Linked DNA regions of Homo sapiens. The protein of the gene in region 3 interacts with the protein of the main gene of each other region in a pairwise test. Each region holds a gene or a part of one and is shown on either strand. Other genes may lie near its edges.

The links. The genes of interacting proteins can lie anywhere in the genome.
Region 1: the proteins of LMO4 (region 3) and TTLL7 interact in binary tests that used the Homo sapiens proteins (3 or more experiments, as listed by UniProt).
Region 2: the proteins of LMO4 (region 3) and PDE4DIP interact in binary tests that used the Homo sapiens proteins (3 or more experiments, as listed by UniProt).
Region 4: the proteins of LMO4 (region 3) and ERCC6L interact in binary tests that used the Homo sapiens proteins (3 or more experiments, as listed by UniProt).

Annotation. Positions count from the first base shown.
Region 1 is NC_000001.11:83,996,226-84,000,337, forward strand, and holds the start of TTLL7 (tubulin polyglutamylase TTLL7), read right to left. Parts: upstream 2,908-4,112; 5' UTR 2,706-2,907; intron 1-2,705. UniProt on the Homo sapiens protein: Polyglutamylase which modifies tubulin, generating polyglutamate side chains of variable lengths on the gamma-carboxyl group of specific glutamate residues within the C-terminal tail of tubulin.
Region 2 is NC_000001.11:149,004,914-149,008,534, reverse strand, and holds part of PDE4DIP (myomegalin), read right to left. Parts: coding exon 3,098-3,621; intron 1,335-3,097; coding exon 1,099-1,334; intron 92-1,098; coding exon 40-91; intron 1-39. UniProt on the Homo sapiens protein: Functions as an anchor sequestering components of the cAMP-dependent pathway to Golgi and/or centrosomes.
Region 3 is NC_000001.11:87,342,302-87,345,922, reverse strand, and holds part of LMO4 (LIM domain transcription factor LMO4), read right to left. Parts: intron 1,136-3,621; coding exon 1,127-1,135; 3' UTR 1-1,126. UniProt on the Homo sapiens protein: Transcription cofactor. Plays a role in establishing motor neuron identity, in concert with MNX1, acting, at least in part, to disrupt LDB1-LHX3 complexes thereby negatively modulating interneuron genes in motor neurons.
Region 4 is NC_000023.11:72,232,421-72,236,041, forward strand, and holds part of ERCC6L (DNA excision repair protein ERCC-6-like), read right to left. Parts: intron 1-3,621. UniProt on the Homo sapiens protein: DNA helicase that acts as a tension sensor that associates with catenated DNA which is stretched under tension until it is resolved during anaphase. Functions as ATP-dependent DNA translocase. Can promote Holliday junction branch migration (in vitro).

The sequences.
Region 1 (4,112 bases), 3.3 Mb from region 3:
GTACTTGCACAGAAAACTTTTTCTCAGTTTAGTTGACAATCCTTTTAGTACCCAGGAAACAGACCATTTCCTGGAAGGGGACTCGGGGCAACAGATATGGAGAATGTAAGAAAGAGAAATGATTAACAGATCAGAAACAGATCTCACTGTCTGACATTCAAGTTTCTTCATGATCTTTCACCATGTATCCAAACAGTAGATGAGCACTTCTTAGCTGAACCTTTATGTGGCTTTCTCTTTGCCTATCAGAATCCTTCCAGTCTCTGAGACTGATTTAATTCACTTCAACCCATGAAGACTTTCCTGATCCTCTGATCATCCAAGGCTCTACTATTTCTCTTTTCTCTTAAGGTACCGCTATAGCAGTAGGTCTGCACCACCCTTTTCTGGTATTAAGCCAATTCTAAGTTATTTGTTAATTACTCACGTGTAAGTAAAATTTCCCCTGCTAGACTTTAAGTTCCTTGAAGTGGGGAATTTAGATGGTTTGCAGACTGTAGTCATTGGACAGAGGAGAGAGAGCAGTTCTAAAGCCAAGTTGGTATTATATTCATACTCTCAGTGATGTCATCTAAGTAAAATGTGCTGTCTCTGTTTTAAAATGTTGCTGCTGACCATCCATCACCAGGACATGCACTTTCCTTTTTTTTTTTTTAACAGCAGTGGTATTGTATTTTTGCTTATTCATTCATGCCAGTTCTGCTGTCCCCCTTAGGATTAAACAGATTGGATTACAAGATGCCTTGCCAAGGTTCAGGATATAGGTTATAGCCATGTAAAGAACAAAATGAAATGACTTTTAGGAATCAAACTCAAGACTCTTCACAAGACCCCACTTCTCATACTCTTGTTTGAACAACAAATATAAATTTGTGCCTCCATTTTATGTCCTTATTTAGGCAGTGGACTTTATCAATACCCCCGTTAACTTGAAAAAGAATTCTCCAATGCAAATGGTTCAATACTTTAGAAATGACATACTAAGATGACTCTGTTCCTGCCTACCATCAATACTATGTGAGTATTTAGAGATAATGAGCATCTGTACTATAGCAACCTGCCTCTTGAGACATAAACAAGAGATGCATTTCTTAAGAAAAAATCTGTAAGTCGCTAATGAAAGCAAGTCAAAGGACCCATCAACGGGCGAAGAAAGACCTAGCATCCATTATTTTTACAGAAGGAGCATAGAAGGTCAATATAATTGTTGACTCTTAACGGCAGGGTAACAACAAACTAATTCAGTTTCCCACTATATAAGAACTACATTTTACTACAACACTCATATTTCTAAACTGACTAAGAGTCAAGGCTTGTCCAAATTCCATGGCTTACTGAGTGGTCTTGAACCTTCTCTGAATTTTGTTCCTTAGTCTGTAAAATGGAGTTATCACCTGTTATGCAATATCACAGAGTTGTAATGAATCAAGTAACATTATCTTAGTATGGGTTCACCTGTCACCCTATTGTGGGGTGCAGTTCAGTCGCACACCTCATGAACTAAGTAACTATTATTACTGTAAATGTCTCCCTAACATTTAAGACAGAAAAAGATTTCCAGAGTTCTTCTTACGTTTTTAATCGACTTCTCCAACACTTGAGCATCCACCAAATATCACTGCCAAAAATGTGCTGAACATCTCCTGTTATGACCTCACTCTCCTATGTAGTGTTGTTCACATATTTTTTGCCATAAGCTTTCTAAGAAAATAGATTATTTTTCACATGATTCAAAGCATCTTTCTTTCATATTGAAGGAGCAATAATTCCTTATGCAGAAAGTTTACAGGTTGTTGTTGCTGTTGTTTGAGATTACTCCTCAATTAATTAATTCTATGTTTAATATCTAATAGAGCATATATATGTACACTTGGACACACTCCATTAATACAGTGGAAAATCCATGGACTATAGAGTCAGGAAAACCTATATTCGAATTCCTGTTCTGTGACCTTGAGAATGTAATTTAACTTCCCTGCTCCTCAGTTTCCACATTTGGTTCTGGATTATGATGATTTAATAAAATACGATATATAAAAGTAAGTGCCTAGGCTATGAAGGTATTATTTCCTACCTCTCCTAAATCTTTTCTTTCTATGCCAGGATCAATCAAACCCACCCAGAATACAAGGCAACTTTCATAGGGTATCTTTTACATCAGTCGAGGGAACGCTGCGATGTGATATAAGTGGATGATGGCATGAGTCAGGCATCCAACAGAGCAAGATGTGGAGAAAGTGAGAGGTACCTACAAGGGCCCTAGACTTCACTCGCATGTGCGAAAAGGGCATTTTGATACCCTTTCAAGAATGCCCCGCATACTCGCGGAGGCTTATACCACGATGTGGGAAAACGACGGAATTACAGAATAAACCAGCAGGGAGCCTCCTCGTTCACCCAACCCGACCCCGCCCGCCCGAGTCTCCCATCTGGAGCCTAAAAACTGAGCTGAGATCACAGCAACTGACCCCGTCCCCTCCGCCCTCTCCCTCCCCCATTCTGCCCAAACCTCTCAGGGCACGAATGGTGCTGAATCATTTGCACGAACGCAGCAGCTCCCCGTTCCGCGGCTCCCAGCGGGGACGGTGTCCCCAGAGCAGTGACAGTCCGGGGATGGGGGCCCGGAAAGAGGGCCAGGGCGGAGCCTTTGGGGACGTGGGGACATGGAAGGGGGTCGGGGGAGGATGGCGGCAGCAGGTACTCACCCGGGTGAGGAAAGCCCAGCCCGGGTCCTCGCGTCCCCGCTGCAAGCGGTCCCCCAGGTGCTCCCGCGCCTCGCAGCTTCCCCGTGGGCGGCCGCCCCGACTCGGCAGCCTGCACTGGTGGTCCGGTGCTCTCCTCCGCCCGCCCACCGCCCGTGGCAGCCACGGCTCGGGACTCCGGTGCTCGACGCGGAGTGCCTGGAACAGCTGTCGCTGCCCAAGCGGGTGGCGGCTACCGACGGGCCAGACCATTCGCCTGCTGCGGCCGGGGGTGCACGACGTGCCGAGAGGCGCGGGCGCCGGGGGCGGCGACGGTTGGGAGGAACAAAGGACTCGGGGAATCCTCTGCCCCCTCGGAGTCAGGAGGTCCTGGGGACAGGAGGGATCAACGGAGGGGCCGCTGCCTCTTCTGGGGGTTTACTGAAGACACTGCTCGAGCTTTCCCGGGCCACACACACCCCCCCCCCGTTTGCCTTGGTCCCGCTCGGGGCTCCTTTAGAACGCGGCAAACAGAGGACTTAGCAACGCGAGCGCCTGGGCGGCGCCCCTCCTCAGAGATGCGAGAGGCGCTGGCCTGAGCGCCTCCGGCCACCTCCTTCTACCTCCGGGCCCTAGGCGCCCGATCCACCTGCCTATCTGACCACAGACATCTTCCCACAAAACAGTGGAGCTTTTTGAATCTTTGAAGAGAGTCTTCAGATCTTTTATCTAAGCATCTTTGTGAAGCAAAGAATAAACGGGTATCTGAGGCCAGCTCGAAAGTTAGGAAATAAAATCAGGTGGGGCCCCATCCCGTAGATGCTGAGGGACAGCTCTGACCTAGAGTTCCTGCTAAGCAAATGTTGAACCACGGCAGTTGTAAAAAAATGTAGATTTAGGAAGCCATTTCGAGATAAAGATTTACAGAAGATTGTTGCAGAAATTAAAGAATATTCGAGGTTCATTGTTCACCATTTTAGAGTTGCGTGTCTTGAAAACGGGAAGGCAATCATGTCTTCTCATAAAATGAATTGTATAGAACTGGAAGAAGTCCTAACACATGAATTCCTTAGACTTTTGTGGTCCCTGCTTCTGTCACGCTGGGTTCACACAGGTTCATTTCAGAGCATGGTGAAGATCAGGACAAGTGTACAGTTTTCCCTGTAGAAAAAAAGAAAAGATAGAACAGAATTGGCAACTACCTATAAAATGTGATTAAAGGTAGGAAAAAAAAAGGCCCTCCAAGTGCATCCCAAAAAATATAAAATTTCACAATTTAAAGTTTTGTCCTTCGTTGAGTAAATCAACATAAATTCAGCACTTTCTATAGACCACTGTGCTGAGAATAGTCTCATTTTCATTTCTTCATTTATTCTTCTAAAAACTCCTGTGAGATTGGTAACCTGCAATAGACCTCCATACAGCCTTGCC
Region 2 (3,621 bases), about 62 Mb from region 3:
TCGGTCCCAATCTCTTTCCCAGATTCTCCTCTGAATTACCTGAGGGCCAGTGGCTCAAGTCCAGCTTGATCTTTCTCACTTTTATGATCCTCTGTAAACCAAATTTAGAAAGAGACGATAAGAAATTAGGCTGGTCCCACTTCCCGCATTACAAATGCAGGAGCCTATCTGGAGACAGAGTAGTGAGCATTTCATGTGTGCATCCAGAACAGTTATTCTGGGATACCTCAGCTTGTGTCTCTAGAGAAGTGACCCCACTGTCCCTGACCTGCCGGTCACCATGATGACTTCCTCTGCCCTAAATCAGGGTAAAACATTTATAATGTCTTTTGTTCCATTAATCATGAGGCCCTTGCCCAGCTGCCCTGCGGGACACTCCAGCCTCCATGTCCTGCTGCAGACTAGCTCCCCAATGCATATGCCCCACCACAGCTTTCATGCAGAACCTGCACTGGTCTCTGAGGAGATGACAAGAAGCCCTGCCCCACCTCTGCATCTGCCACCAGGTGGTGGGCTGGGTGGCTCCCAAGTCTGATCCTACTTTACTCCCTTGGATAGTCGCTGGAAATTCTGAGTAGAAGACCCCAATAATAACCAATGTAGCCCTTGAACTACTGCAGCCAGTGCCTAAACCATGTATAAAAGAGCATGGCGCTTTATCCATATGTGGAGTACCTGCATGCACATTACCATGCCATAAATGGAGACACCACAAGGATAAGGCATTTAGCGAGTTGGTGGCAGCATCCAGGCCAGAGCTTGAGTCTTGTAGTTCTTGGTTCAGGGCTCTTCCTCCTATAACAAAGCCCTTCCATCTCATGTCCCCTACTCCCTCTTAGCATCAGAGAGATGCTGCCCCTGCCCCACAGGTCACATTCCATTAGTGGTGAAGTTTCTATAGTTGTAACCATGGCATCTCCAGCCCTGTGTTTTCCTCTCCATGCTCCCCACTGAGCAGTCTTGATCCTGTATTAGCCCCAGGAAATGAAATAGAAACAGGACCTTAGGATAAAAAGTTGCAGTGGAGATGTGGTGGCCACCAGGGGCTGGAACTGTGGGGGTGACTGAGAGTATTCCAAAGCCCTGTGGCCAACTTACTGGTGCTGAGTTTGCTGGTGAGCCTCTCTGTCAGCTGGCTTCCCTGGGCGAGTTGCTCCCGGAAGCTCTGTCCCAGGTAGTAGTCAATGTCATTGCTCCTTAGGAGATCCTCAAAAGATTTTACTGTATCTTTTGCATGCCGGGTGATAAGATAACAAATACCTCTCCCTTCTCGTATTTTTTGCCGTAGGTAAGACAGTTCCCGGGCCTGATCCTGAATCAGGGAATCATATTTCCTAATGCAGGACAGAAGAGGAAAGTGTAAGTATGGAAAGAGTGGAAGCTAACTTATGGAGTTATGGGGGCTTCTGTAGAGATTTCTATGAGAACATCTCTAAGGAACTCCCCCAAGCTGAATTCTGGCACATAAGCCATAGGAGGTATTTAAGAGTAAATTCTACCCTGATAAAGTATTGCATTAAAAAACTTAGTACGGGCCGGGCGTGGTAGCTCACGCCTGTAATCCCAGCACTTTGGGAGGCCAAGGCAGGCAGATCACAAGGTCAGGAGTTTGAGACCAGCCTCGCCAATATGGTGAAACCCTGCCTCTACTAAAAATACAAAAAAAATGAGCTGAGCATAGTGGCACATGCCTGTAATCCCAGCTACTCGGGAGGCTGAGGCAGGAGAATTGCTTGAACCTAGGAGGTGGAGGTTGTAGTTAGCCAAGACGGCACCACTGCACTCCAGCCTGGATGACAGAGTGACTCCGTATCAAAAAAAAATTTAGTATGTCACTGTTCTTCAACTGTTATACATGTGTTAATTATATGTCCCTAGATAAATCATAAGGTCTGTGAGAATAAACATAGTTCTGCATTTTACATCCCTTACAGCACCAGTATCACATAGATTCACAGCAGTTACTCAATGAATAATTAGCATCATTTCATCCTAAGTCTAGATAGAACCTTTCATGCCTTCTGTTTTAACCACCACCTGATGCCTGAATTTCTTCTATGTTACGATACTGTGGCTGACTACATTTTGCAATGATGGCCATCATTTAAACGCTCATACCATCAACTGATGGGACCCAAAACAAGAGACCCTAAGTGAGAACCACCCAGCTGAGCCCAGTCAAACCATAGAACCATGAAGCATAATAAAGTGTTGTTTGAAGTCACTAAGTTTTAGAGTGGTTATTACTTAGCAATAGATAACCAGGACACACCAAGATGAATGTCTGTGTTTTCAACACTAAGTATCAATAACACTTATAACTATGGCAAATAGCATTGAGAGCTTAACATATGCTAGGCACTATTCTAAGCACTTGTATTAATTCTTTTTTTTTTTTTTCCGAGACAGACTCTTGCTCTGTCACCCAGGCTGGAGTGCAGTGGTGCCATCTCGGCTCACTGCAACCTCCACCTGCCAGGTTCAAGCGATTCTCCTGCCTCAGCCTCCCGAATAGCTGGGATTACAGGTGTGCACCACCATGCCCAGCTAATCTTTGTATTTTTAGTAGAGATGGGGTTTCACCGTGTTGGGTAGGCTGGTCTCGAACACCTGACCTCAGGTGTTCTACCTGCCTTGGCCTCCCAAAGTGCTGGGATTACAGGCATGAGCCACCACGCCTGGTCAGCAGTTGTATTAATTCATTTAAACCTAATATCCACCCTTTGAGATGGGTTCTCTTATCATCCTCATTTAATAGGTAAGGACAAAGGCTCAGAAAGGTTAAGAAGGTTGCATGGGTAGTAAGCACCAGAGGTAGGTAGTCTGATTCCAGTATTACTACTATACTATACCATCTTTACTAATATATCCCTAAGAGGAAATCCCTGAGACCCGGTATCTCCCAGATACTGGAACATCATCCTATGCCCTCCTGGTTGCCTACCTGTCTTTTCTGCAGACCTGTATCTACCATTTAAATCAGTGTCCCTGTGAATACCCAGACATGTTCTTTCTTCCAACTGCCTGAGCTACCCTACGCCAAGCATGAACTTACACATTTTCAATCAAGAAAGTACCCAAACAGTGCCATCCTTACCCAGGCCACGAGGCTGATCTCAGCTCCTCAGCCAGCTTCTCTTCTAGTCCATTTTTTGGGAGCTGGGCCTCCAGCTGGGATACTCTCTGGATGAGACTCTCCAGGTCCTTTTTGGCCTGAAGCCCTGGAGAGTAGAAAGCCCCAGTGCCATCAGACAGCCACCCCTCATCCTCATCAGGGACACTATGAGGTGAAGACCCCTCCAAGGTGCCAACAGCTCTCAGCTTCCGGGGTCTTTCCAGACTAGACGAATAATCACTTGTAACTGAGAGGGACCGGACCCGGCTCTTGAGGTTTTGAATGACCTTGTTGGCATTCTGCAGCTGGGCCTTCAGATCTTTGATGTCCTTTCGTAGGACCAAGATGTTTTCTGACTTTCCATATACCCGGAACTCTTCCTGCTTCCCTAGCTGGTTCTCCAAGGGCTTCCTCTCAGAGGAACTAGCCAGTGTTGAGCCCCGGCGTCCCTGCTCAGAGCACAGCCCCTCCATCAGGACCATTTCCTTGAGGCTGTTGTGCTCCTC
Region 3 (3,621 bases):
TTGTTTGCTATTGAGAAAAAGAATAAACAAAATAGTGGACACTCAAGTATTTATAAACACAAAAGACTTACTGTGATATAGAAGTGTAACGAAATGCTGTTAACAGAATATTCTTGACTTATAGAAAGGACCCTGTTAGAAACTACTTTGTACCCCTGCCAATAATGGCGTGGTTAAGTAATTTGAAGAATACCTTACTGGCCCAGAGCTAAATAAATATACACTCCACCTCCCTCAACTCCTTCAAATTTAAAGTGAGCTTGTTATTCAACAACAATAAAAACTAAATTTCTTCAAAATACAGAAGAGAAAAAGCAGTGTTTAAACCCAAACACCATTAAATATTTTTTCTTTTAAGTTTTTATTATTTAAATACACCATACTAGAGCAAATGTCTCTGAAAATATCACAAATAAAAGATTTTTTTTTTTCTTCATTCAGCAAATTAGAAGTAGGGGGAATTTTCTACACAGTAGCTGCTATGAGCCTGATTTTTTTTTCCAAATTTTTTTCTTTTTTTCATTCTTTTTTTTTTCTTTGCCATGGGAGTAGCAACATTAGGACAAAAACACTTACATGCATACATACATTGTATTTTACAGAGATACAATAAGTGTTTGTGATAGAATATCACAAAAGCCACATCTCTTTCCTTTATCTCATGGTCAGTTTTGATTGAAACACGTTTCCTTACAACACTTAAATATACAAAGAGCAAATAGAATGTTGTTAAGGTAAAACACAGGGTACAAACTCTGGCCAGTGCCCTGCTAATTGTTAATGAGGGTAGAAAGCAGATTTGAATGCTTCTTTTAATTAGCTTCATTAGTCATTTCCCTCCCCCCCAGCTCCCTCCCCCTCCCCAAGATGTCCTCTGGTGGATCTTTTTTCATTTTCTCTACAGTCTCCCATTAGCCCAGGTTCATGGAGTCCTTAATGTTCATATTCAGTCATTTTAATACACCAATAAATGCGGGAAGGGCAATCAAGACTAAAGAAGGTGCAATGGCATGGAGCTGGCACTGGTGCTAGCTACAAAGGTGACTTGTCTACTGAAGACACATGGGATCCACCTGTGATGAACAAATCTGAGATGAAGGCACGCATTCTGCATTACTCTGACCTTTTAGCAGACCTGCAAGAAATAAAAACGGGCATCTTAGCTAAAATGCTAAATTTGAGAGATATTAAACTCAAACATGACTGCTTTTGTCTTCCCCACATTCACTAATCTTCTTTTATTAGATTACTTTCCAACTGTGACTTGATAGAGGCTTTCTATGCTACTTACTCTGGCAGTGAAGAACTAAAGCATAACATTTTCTGCAGTTTTACTAGCAAAGAAAATGAGACAGTAAATGGACGCTCAGAAAGTTTCTGGTGTAAAGTACTACAATTAATTGCTTAACTCTGTTAAGAGCAAGTGTCTTTCCAAAAGGAATGTAACATCTTGCCCAGCAGTGGGATCTTGAATTTTTTAAATAGCGGGGACATTCCAAGACAAGTTCCTACCTAGGAAGTTTTGGGTTCATATGCTTAACCGTGTAACCTTTTGGAATGTTGCTTAAACTGCTTGTGTCTCAGTTTCCTCATCTTTAAAGAAGGGATAATGACACTGTTATGATAATTACATAATACATATGGGAGCACTTTCAACAGTGCTTGGCCCTTAATAAAAGTTCAACAAATACTGGCAGTTATCATTATTATTCCGATATCCCCATGTGAAAAATATTCACCCATATTGGTACTACCTATAGGTGTGTGTCTATATGAAAATTTCTATGTACAAATATTCACATATTTTTCACTATTTCTTATCTGCTATGTCACTTAATAGCTACACAAATATGTGATTCAATACATGCAATGTGTTAATGACCTGTGATAGATAAAAGAACATAGTTCAATGCAAGGGTGGCTTCAATGTCTAAGTCAGAAATGGAAATCCACACACTTGTCAAATACAATCTGTTTGCAATTACCAAAATGAAATAATACATATTAGGTTGTTATGGTTTTTAAATGACATTTTGAGCCTCCCAGGAAGTTCTCGTTTCACCCTTTCCCTAACTTACAAAAAGCCTGTAGTCTATTAGGAACTGCAACCCCCTACTTCCAAGCTAATTAAAGTGGTGAAGGCTTAATTCCCCAGAGTGGAAGCTCAGTGTGAGAAAGGTAATTTGTCTGTCCAGAACAAAGATGCAGCAGCAGCCAGCAAGCATATTTAATAAATGAGCATCAAATGTCTTCTACGATGGACACACACAACACCAATTATGTAACTATGGGGGAACTGCGAAGTGACATGTAGACTAGAACACTCACTAAATTTTCCTCCAACTAAAGAGATGTGATCTAACTCCTGTTCCACTGAAAACTGAAAAGCACAGGTAATTCTAGATGGCACCATCACACTTTTGAGTGGAAGAAAAAAATTCCAGAACAGGCAGCAATCTACAAAAGAAAAAATTAGCCACAATTCCTGATTTACATAACCCTCTAGAAGGCAGCATTCTCCCAAAGCTAGCCAAGCCTCCTTTAAGTGATATAGGTTATAAAATGTTGTAGATCCTTGAACACTAGTGGCCTGAGATTTCAGTCCATCTGAAATGCAAGATTTCAATCACTGTATGATTTAAAAGCTTAAAATTATTTTTCTTGGAATATACAACAGCCAATGATGCAGAACAACAACTACACTACACAGCCCAGACCCTGGGAACAAATCTCAGAATAAAAGTTTAAAGGGACCAGACAATGGGGGCCTATGTTTTCCATGCAATTAACTGCCTTTAAAGAAGGGATGTTCGAATAATCAACTCATTGCTTTTAAGCCAGAGGATCCTTGAGTATATTTACCACGCATAATACACCAAAAATGTAATTGATTCTGCGAATAGAAGGAAAATGGCCAAAATAAATGTCCAATTTTCCCTACCAAAAATATGGAGAACGAGAGAGGAGAAAATAATAAAACGAAGCCATTTGTCATTTCTCCCCATCTCATTGCCTCCAGAAAAGAAACGCCACAGGGTTTTGGGAAAATAATTTTAAAGCCTCTCCAGTTCCAAAAAGCAGTTTATGTTCCACCAGGAAGTATGTTTTCATTAACTCTTCCCCCTTGCCCTCTCATTAATATCTCTCTGGACCACGTTCAGCTTGCCCAAAACCTTTATTTATAAAAACTACCTTGTGAATTGACCGTGCTCATGGTGAGCTGGGCACCAAGGGCAAAAATGTGAGACACTTACGCCAACAGGGAAATGTTCTTAATTAACAGCACCCCCAAAACACAGCTTCTCACCAATGTCTGACAAGAACATTTCCATAAGTTGTATTTCCTTATGCCTTTTAAGAGCTATTAATTTTTGAAGGCCACCTGTCTCTTTTTTGGCCTCCAACATTAAGAAAACATACACTAATAGGTTCTTATTCATTGCCTAAAATATAGTGTTCCAAAATGAATACCCTACCACTGCCATCCTGGAAAAGGTGTGGAAAACAGATTTCAATGAAAGGCATAAGACATGTAATCTCATCAACAGGTAAACCTGGTTTTTCTGCAGTTCTCCTCCCTAACACCTCTAAATTTATGCCATCTTATACTATAAAAGATGG
Region 4 (3,621 bases), on a different chromosome or scaffold from region 3:
AAAAAAAAAAAAAAAAAAGACATGGCATTCCAACATTAAGATCATCTATAGAATTCCAGCTAATGAATACACAAAGAACGGTGAAACTAGAAAATCACGACTTTGCAGCCAGGCTTGGTGGCTCACGCCTGTAATCCCAGCACTTGGGGAGGCCAAGGCAGGCAGATCACCTGAAGTCAAGAGTTGGAGACCAGCCTGGCTAACATGACGAAACCCCGTTTCTACTAAAAACACAAAAAATTAGCCGGGTGTGGTGGCACCCACCTGTAATCCCAGCTACTCAGGAGGCTGAGGCAGGAGAATCACTTGAACCCGGGAGGTGGAGGTTGCAGTGAGCTGAGATCGCGTCATTGTACTCCAGCTTGGGCAACAAGAGCGAAACTCCGTCTCAGAAAAGAAAATCACCACTTTGTAATCTCTAATAACTGATTTGACACTTTGGGAGGCTGAGGCAGGTGGATCGCTTGAGACTAGGAGTTCAAGACCAGCCTGGGCAACATAGGGAGACCCCATCTCTTTAAAAAAAAAAACTGATTTGAGCAATAATTATCAATGGTTGAAAGCCTGATGGGTTGGTGGGGAACTGGATATTCACAGAATACTAAGCTATCCTGAACGTATTACTTCCTCATCATAAGGGGGAAATGCAACTTTGCAAAGGAGGAATCAGATTGTAATCACTGAACCCATTGATCAACCTTTCAATAGCATTATTGAAAGTAGGAAAGTCAGATGTTATATACTTCCTGATATGACACAATATAGCTACACAGCCTTCCCTATAAAGTATTCATGCCAAAAATATTGAAGCTTAATCTTATCAAGCCTTTAGTTTAAATTATAGGAGACAGAACAAACTAATGACACTACAAGGAAGACATCACACTAATTCAAATCATTGTCATAGAAATAAAAGTGGAGGGGAGGGGAGAACTGTTCTAGATTAGAAGTTCAAGAAACATAAAACCCAAATGAAGTTGTAGACCTTCTTTGGATCCTGATAAACCATTCAAAAATTTGAGGCTGGGCATGGTAGCTCACGCCTGTAATCACAGCACTTTGGGAGGCCGAGGCAGGCGAATCACTGGTCAGGAGTTCAGGACCAGCCTGGCCAACATGGTGAAACCCTGTCTCTACTAAAAATACAAAAAATTAGCTGGGCATGGTGGTGGGTGCCTGTAATCCCAGCTACTCGGGAGGCTGAGGCAGGAGAATCACTTGAACCCAGGAGGCGAAGTTTACAGTGAGCCGAGATTGCGCCACCACACTCCAGCCCGGATGACACTGCAAGACTCCGTCTCAAAAAAAAAAAATTTGAATATGGACTATGTATTAGATAATATCAATGAATTCATTTATTTTGTTAGGTGTGATATGGCATGGTGGTTTTGTAAGAATATGGTTTTTTTTTTGACCGGGCAAGGGGGCTCATGCCTGTAATCCCAGCACTTTGGGAGGCTGAGGCAGGTGAATCACCTGAGGCCAGGAGTTTGAGGCCAGCCTGGCCAACATGGTGAAACCCCATACTAAAAATACAATAATTAGCCTGGCGTGGTAGCAGGTGCCTGTAATCCCAGCTACTTGGGAGGCTGAGGCAGAGAATCACTTGAACCTGGGAGGCAGAGGTTGCAGTGAGCTGAGATTGCGCCACTGCACTCCAGCCTGGGCAACAGAGCAAGACTCCGTCTCAAAAAAAAAAAAGAATATGTTCTTTTTAAGGAATATATACTTAAGTATTTCAGCGTGAAATGTCATATCTGGGGATTTAAATTATCTTAGAAGATATGAGGAGGAATATCAACAGAATCTGAAGCAGCAGTCAGTGAAGTAAGAAGAAAATCCGGAGAGCAAGGGCTCCTTGGAAGACTAATGAATCATGTGTTTCATGGAGAAGTGATTAACTTCGTCAAGTACTACTGGTCGAGGTAGATGAAGATTGAGAATTGACTGTTGGATTTAGTTATATGAATGTCATTGGTGACTTTGATAAAAGCAGTTTGTGTAAAGTGATGGGGTGAAAACCTGATTGGGACGAGTTCAACAGAAGTTAGGAGAAAAGAAATAGGAAATGACAAGTGTAGACAATGATATGACACCTGGAATTTTGCTGTAAAGGAAAGAGAAGAAATGGAGCAATAACTGGAAATGAAAATAGGATCAAGAGAGGATTTTTTTTTTTAACAATGAAAGAATTGGTGGGCTGAAGTCCTTATACCAGTGAGTGACAAGGGATGAGATCTTTTGCACAAATGGAGGGGTTGTGCCTTAGCTAGAAGCATGGAGAGTTCATCCATACTAACAGGACAGAAGGCAAAGAACACAGAGGGAATAATGCTGGGAAGTAGGTTGATATGGAAGAAGCTTCTGGAAACTGTCTTCTGATTGCTTCTATCAACCCAGTGAAATTGGAAGCAAGAGAGATGAGGGTGAGATGTTGAGGGTCTGAAAAGCAAGAAGGCATGAAACAGGCATCTAGTACAATGGATGAGTGAATACATTAGAGAAATGTACTATGATTGCCAGGCAGCATGAAGGGCCTGCTTGACATCGATATTGATGGATTTCAAGTAAGACCAGTCACATGATTGTTTCTTCAACCATGTTCATCTGAGAGGGCCAGAGTTGGATTTAGCAAAATGTATTAGTTTCCTATTGCTGCCGTTACAAATCATCACAAATGTTAAAACAACACAAAGTATTATCTTTTATCTTACAGGTTATATCTTGCAGGTTATATAGGTTAGAAGTCTGACACAGGTCTCACTGGGCTAAAATTAAGGTTGCAGCAAGGCTGTGTTCCTTTCTGGAGGCTCTAGGGGGAGAATGTGCTTCTTGCTTTTCCAGCTTCCAGAGGCCATACACATTCCTTGGTTCATAGCCCCTTCCCCCATCTACCGAGCCAGGTAGGATAGGTTGAATCCTTCTCACACTGAGTCACTATGACCTCCTCTTCTGCCTCCCTCTTCCACTTTTTTTTTTTTTTTTTTTTTTGGAGATGGAGTTTCACTTTTGTAGCCTAGGCTGGAGTGCAACGGTGCGATCTCAGCTCACTGCAACCTCCACCTCCTGGGTTCAAGCAATTCTCCTGCCTCAGCCTCCTGGGTAGCTGGGATTACAGGCGTGTACCACCACGTCCAGCTTATTTTTCTATTTTTGTAGAAACGGTTTCATCACGTTGGCCAGGCTGGTCTCGAACTCCTGACCTCAGGTGATCCACCCACCTTGGCCTCCCCAAGTGCTGGGATTACAGGCGTGAGCCACCACACCCAGCCCCTCTTCCACTTTTAAGCACCCTGTGATTACACTGGGCTCACCCAGATATTCCAATTTCCCTATTTTAGGGTCAGCTGGTTAGTGACCTTAATTCCTCTCTACCATATGAGGGTAACATATTCACAGGGTTCAGAAATTAGTATGTGGATATCCTCGGGAGGCCATTACTCTGCTTACCATACGAAGGCTATGGTCTTGCCAAGCCAGTATAATTAAGTGTGAAAGAGAAAAAAAATAAGTTAAAGTTGTATACAAGGAAGCCTCCACAATTATTGACTCTGAACTTCAAACTATGTAAGGAGAGAAGTGAGAACCTGAGGGGTGTGCAACAGTGAAAAGATGGAATCA